6 linked regions of the Homo sapiens genome follow. The protein of the gene in region 5 purifies or fractionates together with the protein of the main gene of each other region. This does not show direct contact. Each region holds a gene or a part of one and is shown on either strand. Other genes may lie near its edges.

Region 1 (5,138 bases), on a different chromosome or scaffold from region 5:
TGTTCCATTAATGTGTATTGAAAGAATGCATTTTTATTAACAAATTTGTGAAGGAAGTGATGGCTGCACCTGCTGTTCTCACCACCTTCTGTGCTTAGTCACGCCTTCTTTTAGCTGTTTGGAAAGCATCTAAACAGTGGGAAGCCTTGGTTTTACAGCTGAACTGAGGAAGGACAAAACAACAACTAAATGATTTAAAACTAAATCGGCCACCACTCCTTCCCGTTTTTATGTCATCATACAATCATTAGTGACCATTTTCTATAAGGGTGCTACGTCCTAAAGTGTATTTATTTTTCAAGGTACTGTCACCGTCAGATTACCCCAGTATGGTCCTGGGACATTTGTACATCCTTGTTACCACAACCATGAAGGAAGCAGGGTTAAATGTATTATGTTATATGACAATATCAAAAATTTCTTTTTTTTATTATAGTAGGAATTGGTGTTTGAGAGCTGGTCCCTGCAATAACATAATCTTTATATTATGGTTGGTAGCATTCAAAGATCTTTCAAATACCAGTAAGAATAACCAATCATTATTTTAATACTGAAAAAGAAAACCATAATTTTTCTGTCTTAAAGTGACAGTTATATATTTTATGTCACTTTCCTCCTGAATGTTTCCTCATCCTTCTTTTATCTTCAAATATCTGTTAGCCCAAATAGAGAACTAAGGAATTTACCCCTGGTGTGGACAGGAAAATATTAGGCCAGTAGTTGGATATGGTGTCTATTTTATAGGAGTTCAAATTCTATGTTGCATTGGATTTTATTGCAAAGCAGTTACTTACTCCCCTCCCCCAGGTTGCCTTTATTTAAAAATGAGTGAAATATAAATATAGAAGCCTTTATCATTCTATTGAATAATAACACAAAATGAAAAAAACATAATGATGCAGAAAGTTGAAATAATTTTTTTTTCTGTAATATACAGGTAACCTTACTCCTAACAGTATTTGGTGAAGATGATCAGTCTCAGGATGTTCTGAGATTGCATCAGGATATTAATGATTATAACCGGAGATTCTCAGGGCAACCCAGATCTGTAAGTAATGCTAAAGCATGTTCAAAGTTAGAGGAAGACACATTTCTTCTCTTTTGTAAAGTGAGGTTTACCAACAAGTATTCTTTGACTATGAGAAATCTTGGCCAGGCACAGTAGCTAACGCCTATAATCCTAGCACTTTGGGAGGCCAAGGCAGGTGGATCACTTGAGCCCAGGAGTTTGAGACCAGCCTTGGAAACATGATGAAACCCCATCTCTAGAAAAAACACCAAAAAATTGGACAAGAGTGTTGGCACATGCCTGTAGTCCCTGCTTCTTGGGAGGCTGAAATGGGAGGATCACCTGAGCCCAGGAGGTTGAGGCTATAGTGAGCCATGATCGCACTATTGCACTCCCACCTGGGTGGCAGTGAGACCCTTCCTCAAAAAACAAGAAAAGAAAAAGAAAAAAAAAAATCTCATTATATGTGTTGGGTCAAGTTTTTACCTTCATTGCTGCCAATCACTACATTACACCTTTCCCAAGGACTACAATTTTCTTTCTTAAAAAACAAACAGCATTATAAAAGTTTTTATGAAAGAGAAACTAGCAGAAAAGCAATAGAAAAAATTAGAGGGAAATAGAAAATTATTTACTTCTTTGTGATACTAAAACACCATTTGTCTTTTGAGAAAAGTTACAACTGAAAACTTTAAGTTTCACAGTTGTGGTTTATTCTATTTGCCCTAGCCCTGTTTGAAATGTTCCCTTAAAAAAATTCCAGGTTGGCTGGGGGCGGTGGCTCACGCCTGTAATCCCAGCACTTTGGGAGGCCGAGGCGGGTGGATCACCTGAGGTCAGCAGTTCGAGACCAGCCTGGCCAACACGGTGAAACCCTGTCTCTACTAAAAATACAAAAATTAGCTGAGTGTGGTGGCAGGCACCTGTAATCCTAGCTACTCGGGAGACTGAGGCTGGAGAATCACTTGTACCCGGCAGACAGAGGTTGCAGTGAGCCGATATCACGCCACTGCACTCCAGCCTGGGCGACGAGAGTGAAACTCCAAAAAATTCCAGGTTTAGGCCGGGCACAGTGGCTCACACCTGTAATCCCAGCACTTTGGGAGGCTGAGGTGGGCAGATCATTTGAGTTCGGGAGTTTGAGACCAGCCTGATCAACATGGTGAAACCCTGTCTCTACTAAAAATACAAAAATTAGCTGGGTATGGTGGTTTGTGCCTGTAGTCCCAGCTACTTGGAAGGCTGAGGCAGGAGAATCACTTGAACCCGGGAGGCAGAGGTTGCAGTGAGCTGAGATCACGCCACTGCACTCCAGCCTGGGCAACAGAGTGAGACTCCCGTCTCAGAAAAAAAAAAGTTTGGAGGGATATGTTTATATGTCATCTTAGCTATTTAAAAGCAGAACACTGTACAGATAACCTTTCTTCCCCTTACCCTAGAAGTATTTGATAAATCAAAAACTAGCACATTTTACTGACTCATTCTTGTTTTATCAAAATCTAACACATTCTTAGAAATGTAAAACTGAATAAGTACTTCAAAAACTAGAATGTACTAAATCCAAATTTATATGGACAGCCCAGACCTCTCCTCTGAGCTCCAGACTCTGTAGATCCAACTGCTTCGCTTCCATTTCAGCGTGGGTGCTCCACAGACATCCCTAACTTAACACGTGGAGTATTGAGCTGATTCCCTCCTTGACATAGTCTGTTCTTTTCTCAGTTTTGATTTCCTCCTCTTCTTCATTCCTCTCATCTGGTCTATAAGTAATCCTACCTTTTCTTTCTATTTTTGGGGTGTCCTATTATTTTTACTGCATCAACATATTCTTGCTGGCTGGGCACAGTGGCTCATGCCTGTAATCCTGGCACTTTGGGAGACTGAGGCAGGCAGATCACTTGAGCTCAGGAGTTTGAGACCAGCCTGGGCAACTTAGCAAGACTTTGTCTCTACCAAAAAATACAAAAATTAGTCAGGCACGGTGGTGTGCACCTGTAGTTTCAGCTACTTGGGAGGCTGAGGTGGGAGGACTGCTTGAGCCCGGGAGGCAGAGGTTGCAATGAGCCAGGATCACATCACTGCACTCCAGCCTGGGTGATCGAGTGAGACCTTGTCTCAAAAAGAACAAAAATGTCTTGGCTGTGTTGTTGTTGTTGTTTGAGACAGATTCTCACTCTTTCCCAGGCTGGAGTGCAGTGGTGTGATCACGGCTCACTGCAGCCTCAACCTTCCAAGCTCAGGCCATCCTGCCGCCTCAGCCTCCCAAGTAGCTGGGACCACAGGGGTGCATCACCACACCCGGCTAATTTTTTATAGAGACTGGGTTTTGCCATGCTGCCCAGGCTGGCCTTGAACTCCTGGGCTCAAGCAATCCACCCCCTCAGACTGCCAAAGTGCTGGGATTACAGGTGTGAGCCACCGTGCCCAGCCTGTGTCCACTTCTTTCAATCACTGTAGACATTGTGCTGGTCCAGCCCTGTCATCTCTGCTCACGGCAACCACAGTGGCCTCCTCACTTCTACTTTTTTCCCTGCCACAGCAGCCTGATACATGTTTTCTAGACATAAATGAGACCATGATGCTCTTGTGTTTGAAAACTTCTATTTTGTTTGTTTGTTTTGAGACAGGCTCGAGTGCGGTGGTGCAATCTTGGCTCGCTGCAACGTTTGCCTCCTGGGCTCAAGCCTTCCTCCCACCTCAGCCTCCCAAGTAGATGGGACTACAGGTGCATGCCACCACAACCCGGCTAATTTTTATATTTTTTGTAGAGATGGGGTTTCGCCATGTTGGCCAGGCTGTTCTCAAACTCCTGGGCTCAAGTGGTCCTCCCACCTCGGCCTCCCAAAGTGGTGGGATTACAGGCATGAGCCACCACTTGTGGCCCAATGTCTTTGAATGTTCCAACTCCTTACTGTGGCTTACAGGGCGCCACATGATCTGGTCCTCCCTCCCTCTCCAAATTTCTGTTAACCGCCTCAATCACCACCCTGCAGCCACCCTGCTCTATGCTCTCAGCACACACACAAACTCCTTCCACCTTAAGGCTGTCACACCTGACACTTCCTCTGCATGGAATGCTTGTCCTTCTGCTCTTATGGTGATTTCCCAGTCTTTAAATGACAACTATCTTAAGTAGACCCTCCTTGGAGAAGTTTTCCCTGCTCTGTGGCGCCCTCTGTACCTTTCCTTCATGGCGTTTATCATAGACAGCACTCAATTCTTGTTCATTATCTTTCTCTCAGTAAACTAAAAGCTTCATAAGGGTAAGGACCATTTTTATTTATTTACCACTGCCGAGTTTCCAACAGTGCCAAATTTGGTGCCTTAATGTGTGTTGAATAAATGAATTACTGTTAAGATAAGAATTGATACTGCTGCTCCCAGCCGAATATATTAAGCTATTCAGATGCTTCAGTGTTAAACAGACATGTGCTCATGCTCCATTGTTCCTTGTTCTGTGAGGTCGTGTACATTTCAGGGCATAGATTTCAACTGTTATGGATGATAATGGGTAGATTTACCCATTTTTCATTGAGCAGGAAAAAAAAAAACTTAATCCAATCATGTTGTCCTCCATAATTATTTGGGAGCCTCTTCTGCAATTTTGACCCAGCAATTTTTTTTTTACATATCCTCCGGTGACATCAGTAGGATGGTTCTTTAAAAATGCAACCTGTTTCAAATTTAAGAGCTACCACTAAACTTTAATAAAGTCATTTAACATTTTTCTTTTCATTTCTTTTCTTTTTGAGACAGAGTCTCGCTCTGTCGCCCAGGCCAGAATGCAATGGCGCGATCTCGGCTCACTGCAACCTCTGTCTCCTGGGTTCAAACAGTTCTCATATTTCAGCCACCTGACTAGCTGGGATTACAGGTGTGTGCCACCATGCCCAGCTAATTTTTGTATTTTTAGTAGAGACGGGGTTTCACCCTGCTTTCCAGGCTGATCTCAAAACTCTTGGCTTCAAGCGATCTGCTCACCTTGGCCTCCCAAAGTGCTGGGATTACCAGTGTGAGCCACTGCATCCAGCCTTTAGAATTTTTCCTTCATTATTTTTAAAATGTGAAGCATACTATTACTCAATTATTATTTTTTGTGTCAGATATTTAATGAGTAAGAAAGCCTGGT
Region 2 (5,889 bases), on a different chromosome or scaffold from region 5:
CCACCACGCCCGGCCTCAAAACCTATTTTTCTTCCAGTATTCCCTAAATGACCCGGTTAATGTTACTGCATTCCTACAGTTGTCCAAGTTAGAGAAGCCCTTAGGGTTATTATCTCCTCCTTCTTCCTCATTCTATCCACAGCTTTTCAGTCATGTGCAAAACTATGACACGCTTAGGTCTTTGCTTTCACTGTTCCCAATATCTTAAACTTCTTCACTTTTCTGACACCTGTACAACTCCTACTTACTTTCCAAGATGAAACAAAATTATTTAATCTCCAAAACTATGTCCTCTGCCTCAAGGAGCATTTAGTTGCTTCTTTCAAAGTACAAGCATCTCAAGTACATGTTGTATGGTATTTATTTACTGCTGGCTCCCCTATTAGATTAAGGATTCCTTAAGCACAGAGAGCATGATTTCGTCATTTCTGTATCACCAATACTAAGACAAAACGCATAGAACTCGATACATGTGTCAAATAAATAAATACATAAATTTTACAAATCAATGAAAATATTGTTTCACATGATTTCACCGTCTTAAACTTTCTATATGTTTCAATTTTTTGTTAAATTGACTTTTGCTGGTGCTCTTTTGGTGCTTACTTTGGATTAATAATAGAATCATTTTAAATTTTGCACCAAATGACTACAAAGTTAAATGTCTATGTCAAAAGAAAATTTATTGACTTCATTATTAGAATATGAAGTGGTTTTTTTTGCTTTAAAACTTTGTTTAAAATATCTAAGGAGGCCAGGTATTAACTCTGAAAAAACTGTATAATTATTTATAAAACAGATCCCATAGGAGCAACTGAACAGCTGTGGAAAGATTTGGCACATCACTTTGCCAGCCTGAATTTAATGACCTACATGTGAAGGGCTACATATCCAATTACTAATCCTCCCTCAGCTACTCTTTGCCCTCATATGGAGGCAGCTGAAAAAAGATGCCCTACTAACAGATCAGAAGTGGATCCAGACTTTTTTGCCAGTGCTCAGTTAACAAAGATCTTTTAGGTTTGAGATGAGGAAGAAACAGAAGAGGGACTCACAACAGTGTTATAGCTGATACAGTGTTTCAAGTAAAATTTAAGGGCTTATGGCAAGAGTGACTTTAGTTTTGTAACTAAAGTCAAAGAAATTTCGGCTCTTTTAGAGAATCTCAAATTCTGGATTTAATTTTCTATTCACTGAAGCCTTTAAACATGTTCAAATATCTTCAAGGATAATTTACTTCAAAATTCTTTCTATATGAGAAGCCAGTCTTCTATTCAAGATGCAAACCTCATTCTTACCTTCAAATTCTGCAATAATCACCTATTAGAAGTAGAGGAGAAAAAAACTAAATAGAAAATGACAATCTACGGGGTTGTATTTCATTTCTCTCTCAGTTGACATGATCTATATATAGCAAAAGATTATATAAGGTCAAGTATTATAAACAATGAAATGTCATCTGATGTTTTGCAAAACAGCATAGGAAAAATAGCTCAAGGAATGAATAAAGAGTAAAGCTATGGCTGTTTTACTTCAGCCATAAAAAAGCCTTACAGATTCTAAATTTAAATGCATTTTATTGTGAATCTGACTCACTTTTTGAATTTAATTTTCCACTTGAGTTATGTAAAATCATGTGATATGGTAATTTTCTGTATAAATTAAAAATAATATAGGCAAGAGATGTTTTTCTCTCATTTTCAACACAGAAAAATTAGGAGCCTTTCTTCGTTGTTTTGCATTTTTAACAGTGGGACTATCTTAATTCCTTCATCCAATACTCACAAGAATATATGAATGAATACACGTCTGCAGGTACACACTTAATTCTTGAACGGGAAAAAACAGACATCACTGTAACTACCTCCCACTCCCAAAACACTAACTCCAGACCCCGCCCCGCATAAACCCCTCCCCTTTCTTCCATTGCGGGTTCGAAATGGCCGCAGTTCGATGACGTAAGACGCAACCGCCGTAGCCTCCACTGCGTAACTACCGCCCCTGCCTCTGGGAATTGAAGTTTCTGTGGAAGGAAGCGTGAGCCGTAACCAGGCCAACCCAGAAAGGCTTTCTTTCTGAGATTTCACTTCCCTGTCAACTCTTCAGCTCGGTAAGTGTCCTGGCACTGGTTGGCGCTCCCCCGCACTATGGTATTCTCTGGACGCAAAGGGGCGCGTGCCATGCAGCCCCCTACTAGCAACAAGGGCTTCCGGGGGAGAGGGGAGCAGTGGTGTGGAAGTGGTTTCCTGCGGCGCTCTTGCTGAAGGAAATGACGTCGATGACAGGCGCCCCCCGCGGCCTACCCAGCTGCTCCCTGGTTCGCCAGAGACAGCTTAATCCCGTCTCTGAAATGCGTTTGCTGGCTGGGAGCCTAGAAGGGATAGTGGGCGAGGCTCCGCCCCGTGGTGGGGCGCTTTCCGTCGGCGTGTGTTTTGGGGTTGCCATCGGCCCGTAGTATGTGAAAAGTGAGTTTGCAAAGAATCAGTGGGAAATCTGTACTCTAAAGGGCCGGAAAGCGTGTTATGGCCCTGCCACTTCGTGGCTAGAGACCGTGGGCTTTACCTCTTTAAAGCTGCCTTACCTCATTTTTCCTGCAAAGGGCTGACGTCGCTGAACTCTCTGAAATGTAGAGAGCCCGAGGGGAAGTTGCTGCAGGTGCTGTGAGCTGAGGACAGTTTTATAAAGATCGAAGTGTTACTTGATTTCACTGAAATACTTTAAATTTGGGAATTTTTCTACAGATATGAAGAGGATGGCAACACATTACTTGTCACTTTCTGAAAGAATTTCATCTGCCCCTTCCATTCCCAACCCTCTGCCCAAAAGGCTTGACAACTGAAGTGAACAAAGGGCTTTTCGCTCCTCCACGTTTAGTCCGCATGTCTTTTAAAAGGGCATTCCTGGCCGGGCGCGGTGACTCACGTCTGTAATCCCCGCACTTCGGGAGGGCAAGGCGGGTGGATCACCTGAGGTCAGGAGTTCGGGACCAGCCTGACCAACATGGTGAAACCCCGTCTCTACTGAAAATACAAAATTAGCCGGGCGTGGTGGCGCATGCCAGTAATCCCAGCTACTGGGGGGGCTGAGGCAGGAGAACTACTTGAACCCAGAAGGCGGAGGTTGCAATCAGCCGAGATTGCGCCATTGCACTCCAGCCTGGGCAACAAGAGCGAAACTCCGTCTCAAACAAACAAGAAAGGCCGGGCGCAGTGGCTCATGCCTGTAATCCCAGCACTTTGGGAAGCCGAGGCGGGTGGATCACGAGGTCAAGAGATGGAGACCATCCAGGCCAACGTGGTGAAACCCCGTCTCTACTAAAAATAACAAAAATTAGCTGGGCGTGGTAGCGCGCACCTGTAGTCCCAGCTACTCGGGAGGCTGAGGCAGGAGAATCGCTTGAACCCGGGAGGCAGAGGTTGCAGTGAGCCGAGATTGCGCCACTGCACTCCAGCCTGGGCGACCTAGCAAGACTCCCTCTCAAAAAAAAAAAAAAAAAAAAAAAAAAAAGGCATTCCTTTGCTATCGCTGTCAAGTCATTAATTCCAATCTGCATTATTCCCACATTCGTTGAGATTTTTCTGAAAAGGAGACTGTCATAAATTAACGACGATTATTTATTTTATCCCAATCCATAACTTAATGCAGTTTTAAAAAACTTTTTTTTTTCTTTTGGTGCTCATTGATGTAGGATGTGTCCTTGCCTTACAAAGTGAGATAGTTTGTAAGCCCACTTAATAACCTATGTCTGCGAATGAACCCCACAAATTTTTAAAATTTTATGCAGGAGTAAAATTTCACACACACACACACACACACACACATATATATATATATAATTTTTTTTTTTTTTTGGAGACGGAGTCTTACTCTGTTGCCCTAGTTGGAGTGCAGTGCTGCGATCATGGCACACTGCAACCTCTGCCTCCCGGGTTCAAGCGATTCTTCTGCCTCAGCCTCCCGAGTAGCTGGAATTACAGGCGTCCACTACCACGCCTGGCTAATTTTTGTATTTTTAGTAGAGACGAGGTATCGCCATGTTGGTCTTGAACTCCTGACCTCAGGTGATCCGCCCACCTCAGCCTCCCAAAGTGTTGGGATTACAGGCATGAGCCACTGCGCCCGACCTCACACAAATATTTTTATAGTTACTGTAAAATACGTTCTTGAACATTTGTTGAACTTGGTTGAATGAATGAAAATGTACTGTGAGCATCACTGCATGTGAGAAAGGAATGAAAAACTCTGCCATGGAATTTTATAAATTATTGCCCAAACTAAAACAATTAGAAAGCAAGTATACCTAATAAAATGCTGTTTTGCTTAACAGGTAATCTGAACACGCTAGTACATAGTGCAGTGTAGATATACATTATACTTATTGTATAGTGTAGACAGTGCGAGTTGGTAGATATCTTTGTAAAGTATACTATACGGAATAATTTATAAGATATCAGGTTAGCATCATTTTTGTTGCATTCCATTTGTCTCAGTGCACCTGGCTTATTTAAAGCCTAAAAACTTCACTTAGTACAGTCGTTTTCTTAGTTAGGAATAGTTTTTAAAAAGATGATGATGATGATGATGAAGATGTTGACCATCTCATGACCTTTCCTTGTGTTTGAGAGATTGAAACATTAATGTACTATGACAGGTCATATTAAATTTAACTTAAGACTTCTTAGATAGGAAAGGCATATGCTCCCCCTGGTGTACATGACCTGTAAAACATTACATTGCTCTTTAAAAAGTCTTCACGTAGGCCGGGCCTGGTGATTCACGCCTGTAATCCCAGCACTTCAGGAGGCCGAGGCAGGCGGATCACGATGTCAGGAGTTCGAGACCAGCCTGACCAACGTGGCGAAACCCCTTCTCTACTAAAAATACAAAAATTAGCCAGGCGTGGTGGCGCGCGCTTGTAATCCCAGTTACTCAGAAGGTTGAGGCAGTAGAATCGCCTGAACCTGGGAGGCGGAGGTTGCAGTGGGCGGAGGTTGCAGTGAACGGAGATCGCGCCACTGCACTCCAGCCTGGGTGACAGAGCAAGACTCTGTCTCCAAAAAAAAAAAAAAAATCTTCACATAGAGCTAATCAACACATGCCGTTTTTGAATAAAATAGAGAACTAACTGAAAATGATGCCACTGATAAACAGAAATGTACTCTCTTGGAATATTATTATTTCATGAAGAGAGCAATTTGTTTCCTGTGAATTTTAATTGTGCTTTTAAGTTTCCTCCACTCGGTGTCGTTTTGGATACCTGCATAGCTGAATTTTATTTAATGTATTGTGTATTGCAAGAAAGGAAAATAAAAGTGATCCAGGGGATCAAAATACATATTTTTTAATTTTTTTCCATCTAGCCTTTTTAGGCTTATTCAGTTTCCCCACCTCCAGTTTCTTAAATTGAATGCTTACCTTACTTTCTAGATTTTTTTTAAAAAAATTAATGAATGCATTCAAGGCTATATGTTTATCTCTAATTACCTTTTTTTCCTGTATCTCTCTTATTCTGTTATCCAAGTCTTTACTGCTCCTCCATATTATTTTTCTGTTCTATTTGTGTCTGCATCCTGAGTCAGATTGTCTTCTAAGTCATCAGTTACTTCTTGGGACTCCAGATAATCTGGAGTTTGTCTCTTCTATTGAACTTTTTATGTCTTCATTTCCTAGTTTTCACAGATTCTTTTTCACTGATTCTGTTCTTTTTCACTGATTCTTGTTTTACTTTTTAGTAAAGCCTGCTTTTATATCACAACTTTCTGTCTTGTTCTTATACTTCTTATTCCCTTATGACCTCTCTGAAATATTTCAGCCAAATTTATTTTAAAGTCATTTTGATTGCCCTATTTTTAATTTGTATCAAGTGAATTTATTTCTTGGTTATTGATT
Region 3 (5,138 bases), on a different chromosome or scaffold from region 5:
GTAAATATTATTTGTACTAATAGTAAGTATTTATACATAGGAAGCTATAACTGTTTTTATTATTCACTTTTAAGATTTAATTGTTGCTGTTTGGGAAAAGTGTAGCCATAATATCAGACAGCTTATTGTTCCCCTAAATTGGTTCCTGTCTCAGTTTATCAATTTGTCCTACAGCAACTATTTATGTTCATTTAAATTGCCTTTTAAAATATTCATGTCAGTTTTTTTTTGTTTTGTTTTGTTTTAATTCTGAAGTCAACTTGCTATATTGTGTTTTTTAAATCATTTAGTCAATCAATTCTTGTATCTGGGGAATTAAGAGTAAGTTACCTAGGAAAACATTGACTTTAGGGTAGATTCTCAAAATCGCCAAGAATGAAGAAATGTAGCACAGTCCCTTAAAATATGAAGGGTGCTGTTTCTTTACTGCCTAGCCATAGAGAACAAGCTGTTACGTTGTTCACAAACACTCACGTTAGCATCTGAGATATACCAGATTTTAAAGTAGTAGAGAATATATCCTGGTAATGTGAAGGGTGCGCCTGGATCACATAGTGCGTGACATGTGAGAGCACTAAATGTGTGTGCTCTCCTTTATTTTAAAATAATTGAACCAATGATTCTGATTTTTTCCTGCTTCCCCCATAACAATTTGGAAGCAACTTTTTACGTAAGAATGAGTAAGAAGGACCTGCTCTCAGGTCCTTCTTAAGGGAGGAGGGGAATAAAGATCCCCTAAGGAAAAAAAAAAAATCTGTTTAGAATTCCAGCCTGTGGTATTTTTACGAAATAGGAAAATAGACTGTCTTACTTTTTGAAAAGATCCTATTTAATGTATTGTGATGTCAAAAGGAAATGGAATGCCATGTAACTGCTATGTTTAAGTTTTTATTTTTATAGTGCAGGATAGGTGCAAAAAAGCACCAGTTTGAACTGTTGTGTCATGTTTTTCTTTTATAAAATATTAACATCGGCCTCAGCAACATAGCAAGACCCTCCTTTAGTACAAAATTAATTTTTAAAACTTAGATATGGTGGCATGCACCCATAGTCCCAGATACTCAGGAGGATGAGAAGGAAGAGTCTCTTAAGACCAGGAGTTTGACTCTGCAGTGAGCTATGATTGCTCCACTGCACTCCAGTCTGGGTGACGAAGCCAGACCCCATCTCAAAAAAAAAAAAAAATTCTTTGAGAACCAAAGTATCTGTATTATTGAAAATAAAGGCTATTGTTGGTCCCATTAACCCATGAGCTGAACATATGAACATGTATTGATATACCTCAAAATACACACAGTAGGACTCTTTTTTTTTCCTGTTTTGCAACAGAATAACATTTCAGTCACTAGGACTCTTGATTCCCACTCTTCTTAATCATCATTTCCATCTACTGTCTGCATTTTCTCTATCCCTTGTCCATCCTGCCTTTGCATACACATAGGCAAGAGCAGGGATTTTCTCACTGAATCCCTCTCAATCTTATTTACTACTTAGGTGAGGAATACCAGTCATAATAGGACCTCAGGAAAACCAGCCATCTCTTTTCTTTGATATTTAGAATGTGTATAATCCATTTGTTCTCTGCACTCTCTAAATACCATAGTCTCATTTTCTCCAATTTCAGACATTCAGATAATTTTTTCCTAAATTTATTTTAAAAGGAAATTTTATATCACTTTTACAAATGGAGAACATACATCACTGGCCATAAATAGAAGGACTCTATAATAATAAAAGCAATAGACCAGGCACGGTGGCTCACGCCTGTAATCCCAGCACTTTGGGAGGCTGAGGCAGGCGGATCACCTGAGGTAGGGAGTTCAAGACTAGCCTGACGATCATGGAGAAACCCCGTCTCTACTAAAAATACAAAATTAGCCGGGCATGGTGGTGCATGCCTGTAATCCCAGCTACTAGGGAGGCTGAGGCAGGAGAATCGCTTGAACCCGGGAGGTGGAGGTTAGTAAGACGAGATCGTGCCATTGCACTCCAGCCTGGGCAACAAGAGGCAAACTCCGTCTCAAAAAAATAAAATAAAAATAAAAGCAACGAAAGTATTATGATGTTCTAAATCCTACCTAAATATTCTTACTCTTAAAGCTATGGTCATAAAACCCACTGGCTTTCTTCAAAAGGTAGATTACATTATTAGAAAGTTGTAAAGATATATTATCACCAAACTAAAACTTTGCTTTTGCTTTATTCAGAGGAATTTAAAGATAATAGACAAGAAATTTCTATTTAGGGCTATGTCCCTGTACCACACTTTAGGGAATGAAACACTGTCATATGTCCTGTCAGATAACTGAGTTAAACATTTCACTTTGCAGTTAACAAAACAGCTAGAGCCTAGGTATAATGCTGTGGTATGTGTCTTAGTTTTTGCTTTTTCCGTTCTCTCATAATAAGTGATCCTGAGTATGTCTATTTTTCTCTCCAGGATATTTTGCTCATCAACCTCATTATAGAACATATGATTTGTGATACAGATCCTGAACTTGGAGGAGCAGTCCAGCTTATGGGCCTGCTTCGAACTTTAGTTGACCCAGAGAACATGCTAGCCACTGCCAATGTAAGCCATGAGCATTTCCCCTCTTTTTCATAGCTAGTATATTGTGTATTGCTGGTAGGAACCAGTGTGGTTAAAGTTCATGGAATTGTTCTTGTTTCCTTAGAAAACAGAAAAGACTGAATTTCTGGGTTTCTTCTACAAGCACTGTATGCATGTTCTCACTGCTCCTTTACTAGCAAATACAACAGAAGACAAACCTAGTAAAGGTAAGATAATTCAGGTTGGTAGTTAAGTTCTCTGTTCTTGAATGCTGAATTCAAAGTTGGTGTTAAGTCAGTCTTTTTAGGAGGCAGTTAGTGGGAGGTAGAGGCTGGGAGGACACACCTTTTAAAAAGTAGTAGTCTTTAAAAGTTCAAACCATCAGGTTAACATAGAGGTCTTAATAATTTGGTTGGTTGGTTGGTTGGTTGGTTGTTTTTATCAAAAGCAACCTGGAGAATTAATGATGTATTTTGAAAAGAAAGGTTCATGACAAAAATGTCCCTAAAAGGCCTGTAATCCCAGCACTTTGGGAGGCCAAGGCAAGCGGATCATGAGGTCAGGAGATCGAGACCATCCTGGCTAACACGGTGAAACCCCATCTCTACTAAAAAAATACAAAAAAAATTTAGCTGGGCGTGGTGGCAGGTGCCTTGTGGTCCCAGCTACTGGGGAGGCTGAGGCAGGAGAATGGCGTGAACCCAGGAGGCGGAGCTTGCAGTGAGCCGAGGTCGCCCCACTGCACTCCATCCAGCCTGGGCGACAGAGTGAGACTTCAACTCAAAAAAAAAAAAAAAAAAACAATTTTCCTGAAAGTACTGTAATCAGATAACAGAAACATGTAAAAGAAATAAGATAATTTTTTGTTGAACAATATTTGTATTCAGTTTGCATCTACACTGGTGAAATATAAATAGAAGGCAGTAGCTATGAAAAAATTCATTTTAAATTATTTGTACTCCAGATGTATAGACAGAGCTAGGATTTTTGCACAATATTAAGCTACTTTTATTTATATTGAAGATATGTTAAGGTTTGTTATTTTTGTATTATATTCATTAGAGCTTTAGCGTGCGTGTGCGTGTGTTTAATTTAGGAGGTAGTTTTAGGTCTACATTCAAAAATTGCTTATTTAAGCTTTAGGAGTAAATACATTATTTTGTCATTGGAATTTTTTTTTTTTTTTTTTTTTTTGGAGACAGAATCTTGCTCTGTTGCCCAGGCTGGAGTGTGGTGGCGGGATCTCGGCTCACTGCAACCTCTGCCTCCCAGGTTTGAGCAATTCTCCTGCCCCAGCCTTCTGAGTAACTGGGATTACAGGCACCTGCCACCATGCCTGGCTAATTTTTATATTTTTAGTAGAGGCAGGGTTTTCACCATGTTGGCCGGGCTGGTCTCAAACTCCTGGCCTCAAGTGATCTGCCCACCTTGGCCTCCCAAAGTGCTGGGATTATAGGTGTGAGCCACCACGCCCAGCCTTGAATTCTTAATATAGCATAATTATAGCACTCACATAAAACACAAGTTAAATTTACTTTTTGTGTAACTCCAGAATCAAGTCCATGAAATGTGAATGTCCATTTTTCTTACCTGCTTTATTCATATTAGGTAAAGCTTGAGGCTTCTTTCCAAACCACATGTTCTATTCCTCCAACCTTTATTAAGATGAGAACTCATTGTGATTTTGTGAAGGACTGTGTTATAATCTAAACGTGGGGGAATGAAAAAAAGCCTTTCAGAGGCTTGCTGCCTAGTGAGGAGTAAAGATAAGTCAATGATTATAATTCAGTATAGACTCGTTACAAGTAGTAAAGGAGGCACAAAACACACTGGAATCAAGGGAACAGGGAGAGAGAGTAATTGCACCAAAGATGACACGGTGTCTGGCAAAACCTCATATGCTATATCTGTTGGAGAACATGCTAAGGTACCTGGTAGAGGGTCCTTGAATTTTGGAATAAGGCAGATACTCTAGATTTGTATCATAACTCTGCCTTACTAACTTTTCCAACTTGGGTCTAGTTAGTTAATAGGCTCATAATGTGAAACAGTTTCTTATAGGGTTGTTAAAATTAAATAAAAAAAAGTAAAGCACCATTCCTGGCACATGTTAGGCGTTCAGTAAATGCTAATTTCCTCCTCCCTAAAGTTAATATATTTAGGTTAATAGAAGAGATTTTACTTGATTAGAATTTGAGTTCTTACATTTTAGAAGGAAAAATGTTAGTCATTAAATATAATTAGTTGTGTTTTGTTTCTTTTAGATGATTTTCAGACTGCCCAACTATTGGCACTTGTATTGGAATTGTTAACATTTTGTGTGGAGCACCATACCTACCACATAAAGAACTACATTATTAATAAGGATATCCTCCGGAGAGTGCTAGTTCTTATGGCCTCGAAGCATGCTTTCTTGGCATTATGTAAGTGTTAGAATTATTTATCATCTTTGTATATTGACATGTTGGTATTTTTTACATCTTATTGCCCAAATGAAAAGACCACTGATTACAGGTCAGGAGATCTAGGTCGTAATACTAGCTCTGCCACTGATTATGCAGGTTTGCCATGTTGAGCAGGTGTTTTT
Region 4 (5,138 bases), on a different chromosome or scaffold from region 5:
TGGAGAGGGCCTCGAGGAAGGAGAGGGATCAGGTAGAGGATCTGTAGAGGAGGCAAGGAGCCTGTGAGAGACCAGGAACTCCTGGATGGCAAGGAGGGTGAGTGAGAGGTCCTCTTCCACACCTAGTGGTTAAGAGCGCAAATCTGGAACTAGACAGAGCTGTGTGGCCTCTCTGTTCAGTTTCTTCTCTCTATCATGTGGGTGGCGACTATACGAAACTCGCAGGGCTGTAGGGCTGCAGTGGAATGACTGTCAGCTGTCATGGTTTGCATTTGCCATAGGGCACGGCCCAGGAAGGTGCGCCAGAAGTGTCTTTTGGGTCGATGGTGGCCAGCTGGTGAGTGGCACGGGCTGAGAGGGATGGGGCTGTGTCTGCCCAGGCCCATCTGCAGTGCCCAGTGTGCTTCCAAATACCCAGAAGGGCTCGTTTTGTCACAGTGGAGATTGTGGACCGGGAATGCCAGCCGTGGCCCTGGCCTGGCCCTGCCTCTGTGTGATCCCGGGAGAGTCTCTTGCCCTTTCCGGGTGGCGGATTCCTCAGCTGAAAAATAGGGATTGGGGCCAGGGGATCCCTGGCTCTGCTTCTGAGTCCTGCAGAGTCAAAGGACACTCCAAACAGGGGCTGGCCCTGCCCCTGCACCGAGTGTCTCTGGCCGCAGCCTGGGCATTCGGAATCAGCCCCTTGTTGCTGTTCGTTTCTGCTTCATGTGCCAGGCCATTGCCGCCCCCCTGCTCATGCCCTGGGCCTGACCTCAGGCCAGGTGGGACCTCCCTCCTCCTCCTGAGCCTGAGAGCTCTGCGTAGGCCCGGGGGGGAAGCCCTTGGTTTCTCCCTCATGGCTCCTGTTTGAGCAGTTGGGGCTGCCAGAGGTGTGACCGACCACAGGCTTTTAAATGTGGACAAGGTTAAAATTAATAATAACCTTGCCAGGCATTTGTAGGAGTCCTTTGCAGAGCACCTGCATGGACATTAGTCACTAACATGTATGGCATACCTAACATGTACTGGACTGTCCGCTCAGTACTTTGCCCACTTTACAGATGAGAAAACTGAGGCACAGAAAGGTTACCAGGACTTACGTAAAGTCATACAAAAGACAGAGGTGGGGCCTGAAGCCTGGCCCATTCAACCCCCAAACATCCCTTTGTTAACTGGCCAGACCTCTGTTGCACTTTGATAGCCTAGACATCTGGGTAGATGGGCACAGAGAGGTTAGCTTGCCCAGGCTGCACGCCTAGTTGGGTCTCAGTGGGAGGAGAAGGGGTGAGAGGAAGGTCCCTGGACCCTGGCTGGAGCCCGGCCCCCCGCGTGCCTCTTCCTTCCAGGTGGCCGACCAGATGACGCTGCTGCAGAACTGCTGGAGCGAGCTGCTGGTGTTCGACCACATCTACCGCCAGGTCCAGCACGGCAAGGAGGGCAGCATCCTGCTGGTCACCGGGCAGGAGGTGACCAGTCCCTCGGCCCCGCCCCTGGGCCCCGCCCTGGCCCCGCTGTGCACTTCCAGGATTCAGGGCCCCGGAGAGGAGGACCCAGGCCTCTCGGGGCTGGCTCTGGGCACCCTAATTATCAGCCCTTTCCCCACGTTCATGGAACACCCACTGGCCCAAACCCTCTGTGAGCAGCCCTGGCCCAGGCTTGAGAGGCGCCGGCCCCTGGGAGCCCTGCTCTTGGGGAGCAGCTCAGGGGGTGTGGGCATGGTGAGGAGAGGCTCATGGAGGAGGAGGTGATGGTGGCCCTGGGTCTGGAAATAACACACTGGAGTTGGCTGGGGAATGAGGGATGAGGGGGGCAGTCCCCACGTCTACCGCAGGCTCAGAGAGGGTGGAAGTGTGGAGCCCCCGGGCCCTGCTGGTGCCGGTGTGGGGGTGGCATGAGGTGAGAGATGAGGGAGGCTAGGGGGTTGCTAGTGCTGGCTTAGCAGGCAAACCTTGCAGGCCCTAAATCTCGAATGAATGAATGAATGAATGAATGGGCAAAGGGCTCCAGAGAGCTCAGAGTCGGAATTTGGGCCCCCTTAGAGCAGGGAATGAGGATCTGGGGAGTAGAAAGTCCAGATGCAGCAGGGGTCCGGGGAGAGCTTTAGGAGGAGGAGGGACATGGCCAGGTGGTATCTGAGGAGGCAGGCGGAGGGGTCAGGATGGGAGGTGGGGGGCCAGGGTGGGGACACGGGGGCACAGCCACGGAGGAAGACTCACCTGGAGAGATGGGCTGTAGGGAAAGAGAGGGAGGGGGGGAGGCAGAGAAGGGGGTTGATGGCCAGGGTCCAGCCTGCTGGCAGGAGTGCCACTCTCAGGTGGGGACACAGGAAGGGCCGTGGGGTCGGTGGGTGCTGTGGGGTGGGGAAGACAGACTCTGCTCCCAGCTCCAGCCCTCCCAGGCCCCCACTGCTCATCTCCAGCTCTCTCCTCGGTGTCACAGGCCATCGGGGCAGGAGGACGGGACGGGCAGCACTGGTCCCAGGGGGGTGTCTTTGGGGCTCCCTGTGAGCGCAGGTGCCTGCAGTCTGCATGAAGTGTGGGTGTCCGCAGGCTGGCTGAGTCTCTGTGGCCATGGGAATGCCTGTTTGTGTGTGTGTGTGTGTGTGCCTGCCTGTGTTTTATTGTGCAAAATCTCCACACACATCAGTGTGTGGGTGTCACTGTCTTCCCATCAACCCGTAAATGTGATCACATACATGGGTGTATGTGTTGCCGTGAGTGTGAGCGTACAAGGGCGGGTGTGGCCGTGTGCACACGTGTGTGCCTTCACTTCACAGAGTGGGCGACCCCATGACTGTGCTCGTGTGTGTGTGTGTGTGACTCTGAGCTGAGCTGTGACCCAGCGTGTAGGTGTGAACATGGGGGCTCTGGGAAGCCATGTGGATGTGTCTGTGTGTCCCCACACAGGCCTGCCCTCCCCAACCCCTCCCCTCCCAGCATGTAGAGGGGCCCCCTGAGCTGCTGGTGCTGCTGGGCCTGGTGCTGGGGTTTGTGTGTGAAGGAGGGGTGGACGCGGGCAGAACGTGGGTGCCTCAGCTCCGGGCTTGGCGGGTTGAGGAGAGCTCGGAAGGGTGGGCCCGGCAGCGTCCCCGGGGCTGTGCAGATGTTACCCGTGCCTGGCTCGGCACCAAGGCTGGGCCCTCCTGACGCCAGCCCATCTGACCTGCACCTCCAATCCATGCCCTCAGCCCTGCATCCCCCATCAGAGAGCCACCTGCCCGGACCCACGTCCTCTGACTGTCCCCCGCCCCGTGCCCTCTGCCCCCAGGTGGAGCTGACCACAGTGGCCACCCAGGCGGGCTCGCTGCTGCACAGCCTGGTGTTGCGGGCGCAGGAGCTGGTGCTGCAGCTGCTTGCGCTGCAGCTGGACCGGCAGGAGTTTGTCTGCCTCAAGTTCATCATCCTCTTCAGCCTGGGTGAGTGCAGCTCCAGTGACAGAGAGGTGGAGACAGCCAGAGGCGGGTGGGTGGGAGGGTGGGTGAGGCTGGAGAGGTAGCCCTGCTGTGGCCAGAGTGGCCACGAAGGAGCCTCGGGGAGAAAGGACCCCTCCCTTACTCATTCAGTGAACAAAGGTCTGAGGGCCCCCGGCCAGGGCCTGGCTCTTAAATGGGGGCTGCTCCCGCTCTGGTGGCCCATGTGACTTTAGGATTTTTATTCCAGGCTCCCATCCTGGGGTCCCTGTTTTCTCTAATCCCTGGATCTAGGGGGCCCCAATTTTGACTGTACCTCCTGGGGGCCTGGACCCCTTTGCTCATGCACACGTGCATCCATTCATTGACTCTACAAACAGGCACCGAGAAATTGCACTGGAGAAGGCACTGGGAATACCGCTGTGAGCAAAAACCCCCCAAGCCCAGCCCTTGTGGTACTGACCTTCTCTAGGGGAGACAGATCATGAGCATAATATGATTAGTAAGACGTAGGTTCCTAACACGATTAGGCAGGCATAGCCAGGAAGGTTGTGACCAGTGCTAAGGAGGAAAAGAAAGCAGAGGAGAGGCAGAGAGCAGGCCTGGCCCAGCCCAGCCCGGCCACCCACCTCACTCCCCAAGCACTTGGGGGGTCTCCTTCCCGTTGCCCTCCTGACCCCAACCCTGCCTGGGCCACTCCAGTCTGCACCCTCACTCCCTGGAAAGCCATCACAAATGCCCTCCCCATGCCCAGAGATGCTGAGGACATAGCTGTCCCTTGCCAATCGTGAAAAGACCTACAGCCTGGGTGGTTAGGGCTGAGACAGAGAGATGGGTGTGGCTTAGGGAACCCTGGGTGGGGAGCAGAGCTCTTTCTGGAAGGCTTCCTGGAAGAGGGGCATCTGAGCAGGGTTTTGGAGGATGAGTAGGAGTTTTCTGGGGGAATGAATTATTTTGCAGTGATGCAGGTGGGATGGGATAGAGATGAGTGAGTGCTTCATCACCTGGAGAGGGGGCAGGATTAAGGTATTGTCTTGGTGGCTGGCATTATAGTCACAGTCTGCGAGGGGCATGCCTGCCAGAGAGAGGGAGGAGTGGGGAGTGGGGAGTGTTGTGGAGGCAGAGGGGATTAACGAAAAGTGGGAAGCCCAGTGCTTGGGTGGGATTGGTGACATCCTCCATGCCATGTGGCTGGGTGCAGTGGGCTGGGTCTCCCGATTCTGGCAGAACAGGCTGGTAACTGGAGGGCTTATCTGCAAGGCCACCTTAAGCCACCTCTCAGGACACCAGCCGGGGCTCTGCAGGGGTCAGCAGGGGACAGCCATTGGGGTGGGGGGCGGGTAGGATCTTGGGCAGCCAGTTAGGAGCTGTGGCCTGAAATCCTTACAGGAGCCTCAGGGACCCAGGCTCGGTTGGCTGCAGCTGGGGAAGCTCCCTCCTACCTCTGCCCGCAACGGCACCTTCCCCGCAGCCTGCCAGGCTCAGCAGACTGGCACAGGATAGAGTCACAGATGTGCGTGGTGGGGGTCTGTGTGGTTGGGGCGTGGAGCCTGCAGGAATTACGTGAACGTCTGTCTCTGCATGCGTGCGTGCTGGCATGTGCAAACGATGAACTTTCATACGCTTGTGGTTTCTGAAGTGTTAGCCTGTGTGAAGAGTTTGTGTGTGACTGGGGATGGACCGGGAGATCTGGGAACATGAGTAATTTGTGGGGAAGGGTGGTGCTTGGAGGCACCTAGAATTGGAGTGT
Region 5 (5,138 bases):
TTGTGAGGGATATTATGTTTTTCTAATACATTTGAGACCTGGAGATCATGTAACAAGTAGTAAGAGCTTGGACAGTGAGAGTTACCTTTTCTCCAAACGGTGCTATCAAAGAATTTATCCACATGGATTAAGGTTCTGATAATAGTTGTTAATGGTAGTATCTCACATAGCAAGGATATGTGTATGCATTCACGATTTCTTATAGAGAATCTTCTCTGAGAAATGTCTTTGATCCACCAACTTCAAGTTCCTGGAGTGACCTAATTTTGCTGTTTCCTAGTGTGCCTTTAGAAGGGTACGTTGTTGGAGCAATCTAGGTTATCCTGTGGTTTCTTTGCAGAGAGCTCAAGAGTACCATATTATACAAAGCAGCCACTTTTTCTTAATTTTTGTGTAGGTGACAGTGACCCCTAGACTGGAGGTTCCTGGGAGGTAAAGGACCTGTCGTTCTAGTCTCTGCAAGAAAAATATTGCCTAAAGTTATCACAAACATTTACACAATTGGATACCTTAAGGTTATGTTATGGAATTTTACCTTAATGTTTCTGCTTATTGCAGAAAATAAAGTAACAAAGGTAGAAATAAAAGAATATAAAAGATGCTCAATCCCAGAAATAAATATTAATTCTGTAATGCGCATTTTAACATTCTTGATGTTAGGTAATTTTATGGTTTTCAATTTTAGAATTTAGCAAAACTTCCTTGAGAAAGCACTTAAAAATTAAATTTATTGTTTACTGTAATCAACTCATTTTCATCAGGTGATCTCTGCTTTTAATATACATGGTTTAATTGATTATCAGAATAATAGCAGCATATTCTTAGTTTCATAATTAACATACTTATCATTTATTGTATACTTATAGGCATCAGTGATAATATGAGCCTGACATTGTTGAAAGTAGAGGCCAGAAGTAATGAATATAAACCGTATAGTTCATTCATAAATTCAGGATGTATAATTGGTAATAAAGTTATACATTTTTTTTATGGGCCAGGCGTGGTGGCTCATGCCTGTATCCCAGGACTTTGGGAGGCCAGGGTGGGTGGATCACTTGAGGTCAGGAGTTTGAGACCAGCCTGGCCAACATGGTGAAACACTGTCTCTACTAAAAATACAAAAATTAGCTGGGCGTGATGGTGCATACTTGTAATCCCAGCTACTGCACAACAGAATGAGACTCTGTCTCAAAAAAAAAAAAAAAAAAAAAAAAAAAAGGTTTTTCTCCCATTCCTTCGATTGGAGTGTTGGGCCTTCTAAAGCAAGGAGCTTCTTTGGCAGTGACAGTTTTTTGTTTTTTGCTTTTTGTGTTTTTTTGAGACGGAGTCTCACACTGTTGCCCAGGCTGGACTGCAGTGGCGCGATCTCGGCTCACTGCAAACTCTGCCTCCTGGGTTCACGCCTTTCTCCTGCCTCAGCCTCCCGAGTAGCTGGGGCTACAGGCGCCCGCCACCACGCCCGGCTAATTTTTTGTATTTTTAGTAGAGACGGGGTTTCACCGTGTTAGCCAGGATGGTCTCGATCTCCTGACCTCATGATCTGCCCGCCTCGGCGTCCCAAAGTGCTGGGTTGGCAGTGACAGTTTTAATGCTTGTAGGGATGAAATAAATTACAAATCTAACTTAAAATATTATCATGACAAAGTATTAACAGCCGTTGGAGCTTAACATAATGTGTCTTGAGCTTCTAGTCCCATGTCAGAACCTAGAATACATATTTCTCTACAATTGAGAAGGGTCTTGCTAGGTGTTTAGAACACAAATGGTATTAGTAACACAGTTTTAGGTTAACCTGACACGGTTAAAGATTATTCTCTGCAAAGCTGCTGGGCTTGTAAATACAATTTCTTGAGAGAGGAATAAGAAATTGAGTTGATAAGTTTTCAAGAAGAGAATTGATTGAAATATTATACCTCATTGGTGTTATCTTTATAAATTTTTATGCAGCCATTGCCGAAATCTAAAAAAACTTGTAGCAAAGGCAGTAAAAAGGAACGGAACAGTTCTGGAATGGCAAGGAAGGCTAAGCGAACCAAATGTCCTGAAATTCTGTCAGATGAATCTAGTAGTGATGAAGATGAAAAGAAAAACAAGGAAGAGTCTTCAGATGATGAAGATAAAGAAAGTGAAGAGGAGGTAAAATATTTTACTATATTTTTAAATCATTTCTTTCCATGGGGAGAGTTAAATATTTCTGCTATAAGGTACAGCCAGAAAACACTTCCTTATTGGTTGTTTTTAATTCTGAAGATGCAGAAATGATTAAGTATGAACCCATTTCTTTTCCTTAAAGAGCTTTTAGTTTCATTACCATGTCAGAGTATGAGTCAGAAAAGAGTGAGGTTGGTGTGGACTGGATTTGAAGTGGGCCTTGAGCTGGACGTTGAAGACTAGAGTAGATAAATGGGAAGGGAAGCGGAAGTGGTGCATATCCTGAATAGGACCACATAGGAGCAGATTCTTCGAGGATTTTTTTCGTAATATATTGATACTTTATAATTGACTTGGATCATTTTATTTTACGGAAAAAGCAAGGGACTTAAGGGCCTTTTTCCCCCCCTCAACCTTTAGGGGACTATGTAGTGAGAATAAACAGCATTTGAAGTTTATATAATGAGTGGATAAATTTTGTATTACCTGTCATTTTCTTTTATTTGGGAGTATTTGTAAAAGTTGAGACTCTTAGTTTCCAAAGTGAAACTTCATGAAGAAGAGAACTGCTGAAGCAGTTAAATAAGAGGGTTAACCTCTTCAGTCAGGTAGATCATGGAGAGTGGGTACAGGAGATGGGTTTCTATTATTGTTAATGATGTTTTGGTAGACTGTATTTTAACTTTGATGTTTTCGTTCAAAGGTTGGAACTTGCTCTATAGATTGGGTAATCAACCTTGCCTTATTTAGGGACTTGGATAATGTCAACTTGACATTTTGGACCAGATGATTCTTAATTGTGGGTGATATTCCCAAGCTCCCCTTGTGACAACCAAAAATGTTCTTCAGACATTGTCAAATGTCCCTGGGGCGAGACAAGGAGGGAATCATCTCCACTGAATTAGAAGGAATAAAGATATAGTGAACTCTGGTATTATATGATATGTGTGGGTGTTTAGTATGTATGTTTGTCTTGAGTTATTTACAATTCATGCTTGTTTTAGCGTCAAATTTTATAAAGACTTCTATAAAGCTAAGTATGAAATGCTTCATCATTTAAGAAAGAGGGTTACGAATCTAGTAGGTGCTTCATAAATATCTTAATATATATTTGGCACAAAGGAAAATAAGTAATCTGAGCATTAAGGTCTTTATGGATTGGATATCCGGGAGGAAAACATGTTTGTTTGTATGTATATATATAACAGTGGAAATTTTTAAACTGATAGTATCTTCATTCAGGAAATATTTGGTGTCTACTGTGTGCCATTCAGATTCCTAAACTCTCTTTATGGGCAGAGTTAAAGCACGAAACATTATCATAGAATATAAATGTCTAATTTTTTCATAGAGACGTTAGCATGGGCTCTGGAAACTGAGTTCAAATCTGACCTCTATATTGGATTATTACTGTATTAGTATAAGCAAGTTATTTAAACTATACCTCAGTTTCCCATCTGTAAAATGGGGAGTGATAATAGTATTAGCCTCATAGGGTCATATTAAAGGATTTTATTTAAAATACTTAGAGCGGTGCCTGGTGCATATAGTATGTAAGTATTAGTTGCTATTATTATTAGAATTAAAATGATGTTTTATGACAAGTAAAACTTCTAAATCGAATCTTCTTGTCATTACTAGGTGCAGGTTAAAAAGTGAGGGCAGGCCGGGCATGGTGACCCATGCCTGTAATCCCAGCACTTTGGGAGGCCGAGGTGGGTGGATCACCTGAGGTCAGGAGTTCGAGACCAGCCTCACCAACATGGTGAAACCCTGCCTCTACTAAAAATACAAAATTAGCTGGGCGTGGTGGTGCATGCCGATAATCCCAGCTACTCGGGAAGGCTGAGGCAGGAGAATTGCTTGAACCGGGGAGGCAGAGGTTGCAGTGAGCTGAGATCGCACCATTGTTCTCCAGCCTGAGCAACGAGCGAAACTCCGTCTCAAAAAAAAAAAACGAGAGCATTTTATACTCACTTTTAAAATTCGCTTTCTAAATTGTTGTCCCATAGTTCTGTAGAGGTAGTTGAACTTGGTGTATGCAGATGATACCTGATTTATACCCATATTGGTTCCAGGATAATAATCACAAGTGGAACCATCTCACTATAAATCAAACCTTTACCTTCTGTAGTGCCCTAATCTAGGGTCTGTGACTAGAAACCCAGGTCAATTGATGAAAATCCATGGGAGAAGAAAATGTAAAAATGCTTTCAGACATTAGGTGTATGAAATCACACAATATAAAAGCTATATCATATTTTATTAGAGGGATTTTTTTGCTACCTTTGCTAGTACTTGACAGATTTTATAAAATGTAAAATAAAATTTGGACTGAGAAATTGTTTCCCCCCCTTTTTTTTCCCTGATAAATGTCTCTCCAACAAGCATTGTTGCTTTAAATTTAGCACTGTCTTCAGCTTTTTATTGCTGATTCAGTTTCTGTGAAAGGCCTTTGAAAGGTAAGTTCTGGCAGGAGGAACAGTGTATCTGTGGCAACTTTGTTTTTCCTTATTCCATTTTATGAAGACTCAGTTCTAAATGTCAGCCATGTTAGGAACTTCATAAATGGAGCTATTTTTGGTCATTACTATGGAAGGACCTCTTTTCTAAGAAGCCATAAAGAAAAGTTGCAAGTTAGTCACAGAAGTTTTGGATTGCCTGTAGATTTCTTTATGATAGGAAATTAGTGAGTTAATATTCTGTTTATTTTCTGACACAGATTTTTCTTTGATAAATAAAAGACTCTTATTCATTAAGATCAGCTTCTTGTTCTGTTTTTCTTGGAGTAAATAACTGTGAATTTGGGTAGATTGATTTTACTTTGTTCAGTTTCCTCTGTAAAATGAGGATTTTGAACTGTATAGTCAAATATACTCTATTCATTGTTGAAGTAAGAAATCTTATGCAAGCCGAGTAAGTTTATAGTTCTCCTTTGGCTAATTATATGAGGTTAAATTGTATTTATTTTCCTCCTAGTTTCATGT
Region 6 (5,138 bases), on a different chromosome or scaffold from region 5:
TTTTGGTTTTGTCTGAAATCGCATCTGTGTTAGTCCGTTCTCACACTGCCATAAAGAACTTCCCTGAGACTGGGTAATTTACAAAGAAAAGAGCTTTAATTGACTCACAGTTCCGCATGGCTGGGGAGACCTCAGGAAACTTACAATCATGGTGAAAAGGGAAGCAGGCACCTTCTTCACAAGGCGACAGGAGAGAGAACATGTGAAGGAGGAACTGTCAAACACAAAGCCATCAGATCTCCTGGGAGCCCACTCACTATCACGAGAACAGCATGGGGGAAACTGCCCCCGTGATCCAGTCTCCTCCCACCAGGGCCGTCCCTCATCTTGTGGGGATTATGGGGATTACAATTCCAGATGAGATTTGGGTGGGGACACAGAGCTAAACCATATCAGCATGTGATCCTCTCAACGTTCCAGGGGTCTCGTAACATGCCGGGCCTGTCTGCAGCCACGCTGGCCTCTCTGGGTGGGACTTCCTCTCGGAGAGGCAGCGGAGACACCTCCATCTCCATCGACACCGAGGCATCCATCAGGGAAATCAAGGTGAGATGCTCTCTTCTTACTGACAACTTGAGAGAACCTTTTGTAAAAATCAGTCTTTAGATTAAAAAAAAAAAAGTTAATTCATAAAGTTCTGGATCTTTCTTCTTGGTCCTCTCTCCCTCACCTCCCCTAAAATACGGTGTTCTCCTAACATCAAGACCCAGCTCAGATAGTGTCTCCTGCAGGAATCTGATCCTACCCACTGACCCCCCAGCAGGGCGGACCGTGTGCCGGCCCCCTGCGCCCCTCAGCACCCGGGGAATACCTTAGTGAGAGCACTTGGCACGTTGTGTTGATGCACTTGGTCGTCTCTGTATGCTTGGTCTGCATAGACATTCAGTCCACAAGTTTGGACACCAGACGGCTTTACCTACTTTCACACAACCCCTCCCCACTAAGTATGTTCCCCTTCGGCCTAGAACTTGCCCTTTCCTTTCTCTTTGTAATGTGCCTTTAGTAGCCCTCATCTTTGTATTTTAATGATTTTTTTTATCCCACTGTAGTGTAGGTATTATTCTCTGCTCTATCCTCAGCACCCAGGACAGTGCCAGGCATTTGGTAGTATTCTGTGTGTGAAAGAGAAACACGGTGCTATTTGTTAAAGTAACTAGGGACAGTGCATCTGAAAACCTGAAGACTGGAAGGGCAGGTGAGGTGACTAGACCTGTGTCCTCCAGGGAGCAGAACCAAGACAGAAGCAGCTGAAAGGAGCCAGAACTGACTCAGATTCTGAATTTTCTAGTGCTTTAAACTAGGTTTAAAAGGGAAGCAACTTCCACTGGGGATGTCTGAGCAGCTGGATGGCCGTTTGCCAGGGAGGACGGAGAGGGATTTAAGCATCCACCAGAGTTTGGCCAGGGTTACCTTGAAGATGCTTCCAACACCTATGTTTTATAAGTTTACAAAACCAGAAGAGCCATTTCCCATGTGCCACCCCTGGGCCACCTGCAGCTCCTTGTTGCTTCCCTTTTTTTTTCCTTTTTCTTTTCTTTTCTTTCTTTCTTTTTTTTTTTTTTTTTTTTTTTTTGGAGACAAGAGTTTTGCTTTTGTCACCCATGCTGGAGTTCAATGGCACGATCTCGGCTCACTGCAACCTCCACCTCCCAGGTTCAAGTGATTCTCCAGCCTCAGCCTCCTGAGTAGCTGGGATTACAGGCGCCCGCCACCATGCCCGGCTAACTTTTGTATTTTTAGTGGAGACGGGGTTTCGCCATGTTGGCCAGGCTGGTCTTGAACTCCTGACCTCAGGTGATCCACCCACTCGGCCTCCCAAAGTGCTGGGATTCCAGGCGTGAGCCGCTGCGCCTGGCCTGTTGTTTCCGTTTCTACAGCAGAGCAGCAGAGTTGGCGGCAGTCCTGATGTTTCTCTGCCCTTAGGTTGCGCGTGCCGTTCATTTGTTCAGGTACTTACTGAGAGGCTGGCTGGTGCCAGATGCTGTCCCCGGCACCAGGAATTTGGCAAAGTAGAGACTTGGAGCTCCATAAATGCAGGGAAAAAGTGCTACTGATTTTTGCCTCTAGCATCTTACTGTACATTGCACAGAGTAGGAACTCCTAGTGCTTGAATGAATTACTAAATAGGAGTTGAAATAACCTGTACCGTTTTCCGAGGCTCTATTTTGTCTGTTTTTTAAACTGTGTAAAATCATATGAGATACACTAAAATTGTATAAAATCATGTAAAAATATCATATGGGATACACCTGAACTTTAATCTTTAAATATTGAAGTTTATTTTCCCTTAACGCTTAATAAAATAAAAAAGAAAATTGGGTGCTCAGACTACCCAAATAGAAACTACCCTGAAGTATAAAAGATTTAGGGAATCACCTGTTTTCCCTTGACATCATCTGCCTTTTTTGCCATTTCCCCCAGGAACTCAATGAGTTAAAGGACCAGATTCAGGATGTAGAAGGCAAATACATGCAGGGATTGAAAGAGATGAAGGTACCAATTCACAGACGTGTGGTCTCACGATATTAACCCAACTTAACTTAAAAAAAAAAACAACATCCTAAAGAAGAAATTCAAAGTGCATGCTTACTGTAAATAGGCTCCAGGGTGTAGAAGAACTCACAATGGCAGGAGTGCCGGCATGGGTGTACACTCACCATTTTCCCAAATGCATTGTTTGAACCAAGATTGAAAATGTAACTGCCCAGTAGAAAAGGTTACTAACATACTCCCTGATGCATGCCTTAGACTTACCATCCTTCCCCCAGGCTTAAAACCAGTTTCTCATTTCCCATAGGCGTGTGCCAGACACTTGAAGAAGGTTCTTGGTTTTCTTCACTTTTTGTAGTAGTTGTATACAAAAATGCTTCAGTTGATTTGCTTCTCAAAATATCTGATGTCTACTAATAAGGCCGTCCTCACATGCCACACTTTTGAAACATCCCAATTATTTGCACCCTGTAAAATGCTACTAATTGAAGTAAAGACTGACTATGGCATTGGCTTTCTTGGAGCGTGTGCACACTGCTTTTAGAGTGTGCAGTGACTTCATTGCACCAGCCAGGAGATGTGGTTGCCCTGTTCCTTGACAGTAAGGTGGGCAATCAGTGACTGTCTTCCTTAGGCAGCAGCGGATCATGGATCTGGAAGTGGGTGGCGTATCTGTTACTTCCTTTTCAGCCCCCTAGAAAGTACCTGCAAGATCATTTGAATTTAATATCAAAGGGCACCAGACAGAGGAGGTGACATCGATCATGACTAATTCACTATCTTCATATCTGCCACCTTTCCTGAAAGGGGGAAAAATAAGACTCTGGCTTTCAATTCATGCGAAAAGGAGCCACTTGGCCAGGCGTGGTGGCTCACGCCTGTAATTCCACACTTTGGGAGGCCGAGGTGGGTGGATCACCGGAGGTCAGGAGTTTGAGACCAGCCTGGCCAACATGGTGAGACCCCGTCTCTACTAAAAATATAAAAATTAGCCAGGTGTGGTGGTGCGCACCTGTAATCCCAGCTACTTGGGAGGCTGAGTCAGGAGAATCACTTGAACCTGGCAGGTGGAGGCTGCAGTGAGCCGAGATCGTGCCACTGCACTCCAGCCTGGGTGACAGAGCGAGACACTGTTTCAAAAAAGAAAAAATGCTGCTGGGGAGCCACTGAACCAACCGGAGACCCGCTGGTCCCACGTGAAGCAGCTGTCCTGGTGTGGAGGTACAGAGCTAGACCAGCACTGGTCCCTCCAGCCCCCTGGTAGCCTCTGCTGCACCTGAACTGGCAGCTCTTGCCGCTGCCTTTAGCTCTGCATGTATGCGCCCTGAAGGTTCTGCCTCTCTGTTTTGGAATCGCCTTCCCCTCCTCATGTTTGGGGACCTGCAAGGGTGTGAGGCACGTGAGGGCATCGCCATGCGTATTTTACAGGCCTCTTTCTCTGGACTGTCCTTCAAAGGGAATGACCTTTGTCTTTCCAGGACCTACCCAGTGAGATCTGCCTGCCATTTTCCTATGAGTCAAAAATCTGAACTCACTACTGCTCCTTTCCTGGTTCATAAGCCAGAGTAGGGCTGGTTGGCAGTCACTGGCTTGTGGCCCTATGTAATTATCTCAGCCATCACACACTGGCTCTTTCACAAGGGCTGGTCACACGCCTCGAGTGATTCTTCAGAAATCTGTTGAACAGCCTGACACCCAGCCCTAGGACGCCGTGCTGGGGGGATTCCCCAGCTACTGAGTGGGGCCAGAGACTCTACTGCCTCTGTGACCACATCCCTTTCCATACTGGTATCTCGTTTGTTCTAATGAGTGTGTCCATTGCTTTTAATAGTGAATTTTCTGAGCAATGAGAATTTGACCAAATTGAAAAGGGGGATTTCCATGCATTTGAAATTGCCATGTGTTTCTTCTTCTGATCCATTTGCTCTAAGAAATATAGTCTAAGTTTAGGACTGAGGGTTTTTTTTTAACAGAATACTGAATGATTCTTTGTTTTGATTTTTTTATTGCAATTTCAAAAATATGACCTGCTTTCCACAGGACTCTCTAGCAGAAGTTGAAGAGAAATATAAGAAGGCTATGGTTTCCAATGCTCAGCTAGACAATGAAAAGACAAACTTCATGTACCAGGTTGATACCCTAAAAGATATGTTGCTGGAGCTTGAAGAACAGCTGGCTGAATCTAGGCGGCAGTACGAAGAGAAAAACAAAGTAAGCATTAGTATGATACAGAATGTTAACAATAGGCTGCGTGCAGTGGCCCATGCCTGTAATTCTGGTACTTTGGGAGGCCAAGGTGGGAGGATTACTTGAGCCCAAGAGTTCGAGACCAGCCTGGGCAACATGGCGAGACATCATTTCTAAAAAGAATTAAAACAATTAGCCAGGTGGTACATGGCTGTAGTCCCAGCTACTTGGGAAGCTGAGGTGGGAGGATCACTTGAGCCTGGAAGGTTGAGGCTGCAGTGAGCTGTGTTGACACCACTGCACTCCAGCTTGGGCAACAGAGAAGACACTGTCTCAAAAAAAAAAAAAAAAAAAGGGAATGGTAGGGTGTGTGTGTGTGTGTGTGTATGTATGTATGTATGTGTGGATATATCGTGTGTATGTATGTATATATAATGTATAATTTACATTATGTATTTTTA

What was found.
Region 1: the proteins of DEK (region 5) and RNF170 purify together in Homo sapiens (affinity purification with western blotting; one study listed by BioGRID). This does not show direct contact.
Region 2: the proteins of DEK (region 5) and TRMT10A fractionate together in Homo sapiens (co-fractionation; one large-scale study listed by BioGRID). This does not show direct contact.
Region 3: the proteins of DEK (region 5) and PPP4R3A fractionate together in Homo sapiens (co-fractionation; one large-scale study listed by BioGRID). This does not show direct contact.
Region 4: the proteins of DEK (region 5) and NR5A1 purify together in Homo sapiens (co-immunoprecipitation; one study listed by IntAct). This does not show direct contact.
Region 6: the proteins of DEK (region 5) and LRRFIP1 fractionate together in Homo sapiens (co-fractionation; one large-scale study listed by BioGRID). This does not show direct contact.

The regions. Positions count from the first base shown.
Region 1 is NC_000008.11:42,857,655-42,862,792, reverse strand, and holds part of RNF170 (E3 ubiquitin-protein ligase RNF170), read left to right. Parts: intron 1-937; coding exon 938-1,048; intron 1,049-5,138. UniProt on the Homo sapiens protein: E3 ubiquitin-protein ligase that plays an essential role in stimulus-induced inositol 1,4,5-trisphosphate receptor type 1 (ITPR1) ubiquitination and degradation via the endoplasmic reticulum-associated degradation (ERAD) pathway.
Region 2 is NC_000004.12:99,560,134-99,566,022, reverse strand, and holds the start of TRMT10A (tRNA methyltransferase 10 homolog A), read left to right. Parts: upstream 1-1,983; 5' UTR 1,984-2,110; intron 2,111-2,299; exon of another isoform or gene 2,300-2,655; intron 2,656-5,889. UniProt on the Homo sapiens protein: S-adenosyl-L-methionine-dependent guanine N(1)-methyltransferase that catalyzes the formation of N(1)-methylguanine at position 9 (m1G9) in tRNAs. Probably not able to catalyze formation of N(1)-methyladenine at position 9 (m1A9) in tRNAs.
Region 3 is NC_000014.9:91,470,673-91,475,810, reverse strand, and holds part of PPP4R3A (serine/threonine-protein phosphatase 4 regulatory subunit 3A), read left to right. Parts: intron 1-2,440; coding exon 2,441-2,572; intron 2,573-2,675; coding exon 2,676-2,778; intron 2,779-4,815; coding exon 4,816-4,974; intron 4,975-5,138. UniProt on the Homo sapiens protein: Regulatory subunit of serine/threonine-protein phosphatase 4. May regulate the activity of PPP4C at centrosomal microtubule organizing centers.
Region 4 is NC_000009.12:124,489,337-124,494,474, reverse strand, and holds part of NR5A1 (steroidogenic factor 1), read left to right. Parts: intron 1-1,325; coding exon 1,326-1,445; intron 1,446-3,246; coding exon 3,247-3,394; intron 3,395-5,138. UniProt on the Homo sapiens protein: Transcriptional activator. Essential for sexual differentiation and formation of the primary steroidogenic tissues. Binds to the Ad4 site found in the promoter region of steroidogenic P450 genes such as CYP11A, CYP11B and CYP21B.
Region 5 is NC_000006.12:18,246,649-18,251,786, reverse strand, and holds part of DEK (protein DEK), read left to right. Parts: intron 1-1,947; coding exon 1,948-2,136; intron 2,137-5,138. UniProt on the Homo sapiens protein: Involved in chromatin organization.
Region 6 is NC_000002.12:237,748,779-237,753,916, forward strand, and holds part of LRRFIP1 (leucine-rich repeat flightless-interacting protein 1), read left to right. Parts: intron 1-420; coding exon 421-546; intron 547-2,421; coding exon 2,422-2,493; intron 2,494-4,530; coding exon 4,531-4,701; intron 4,702-5,138.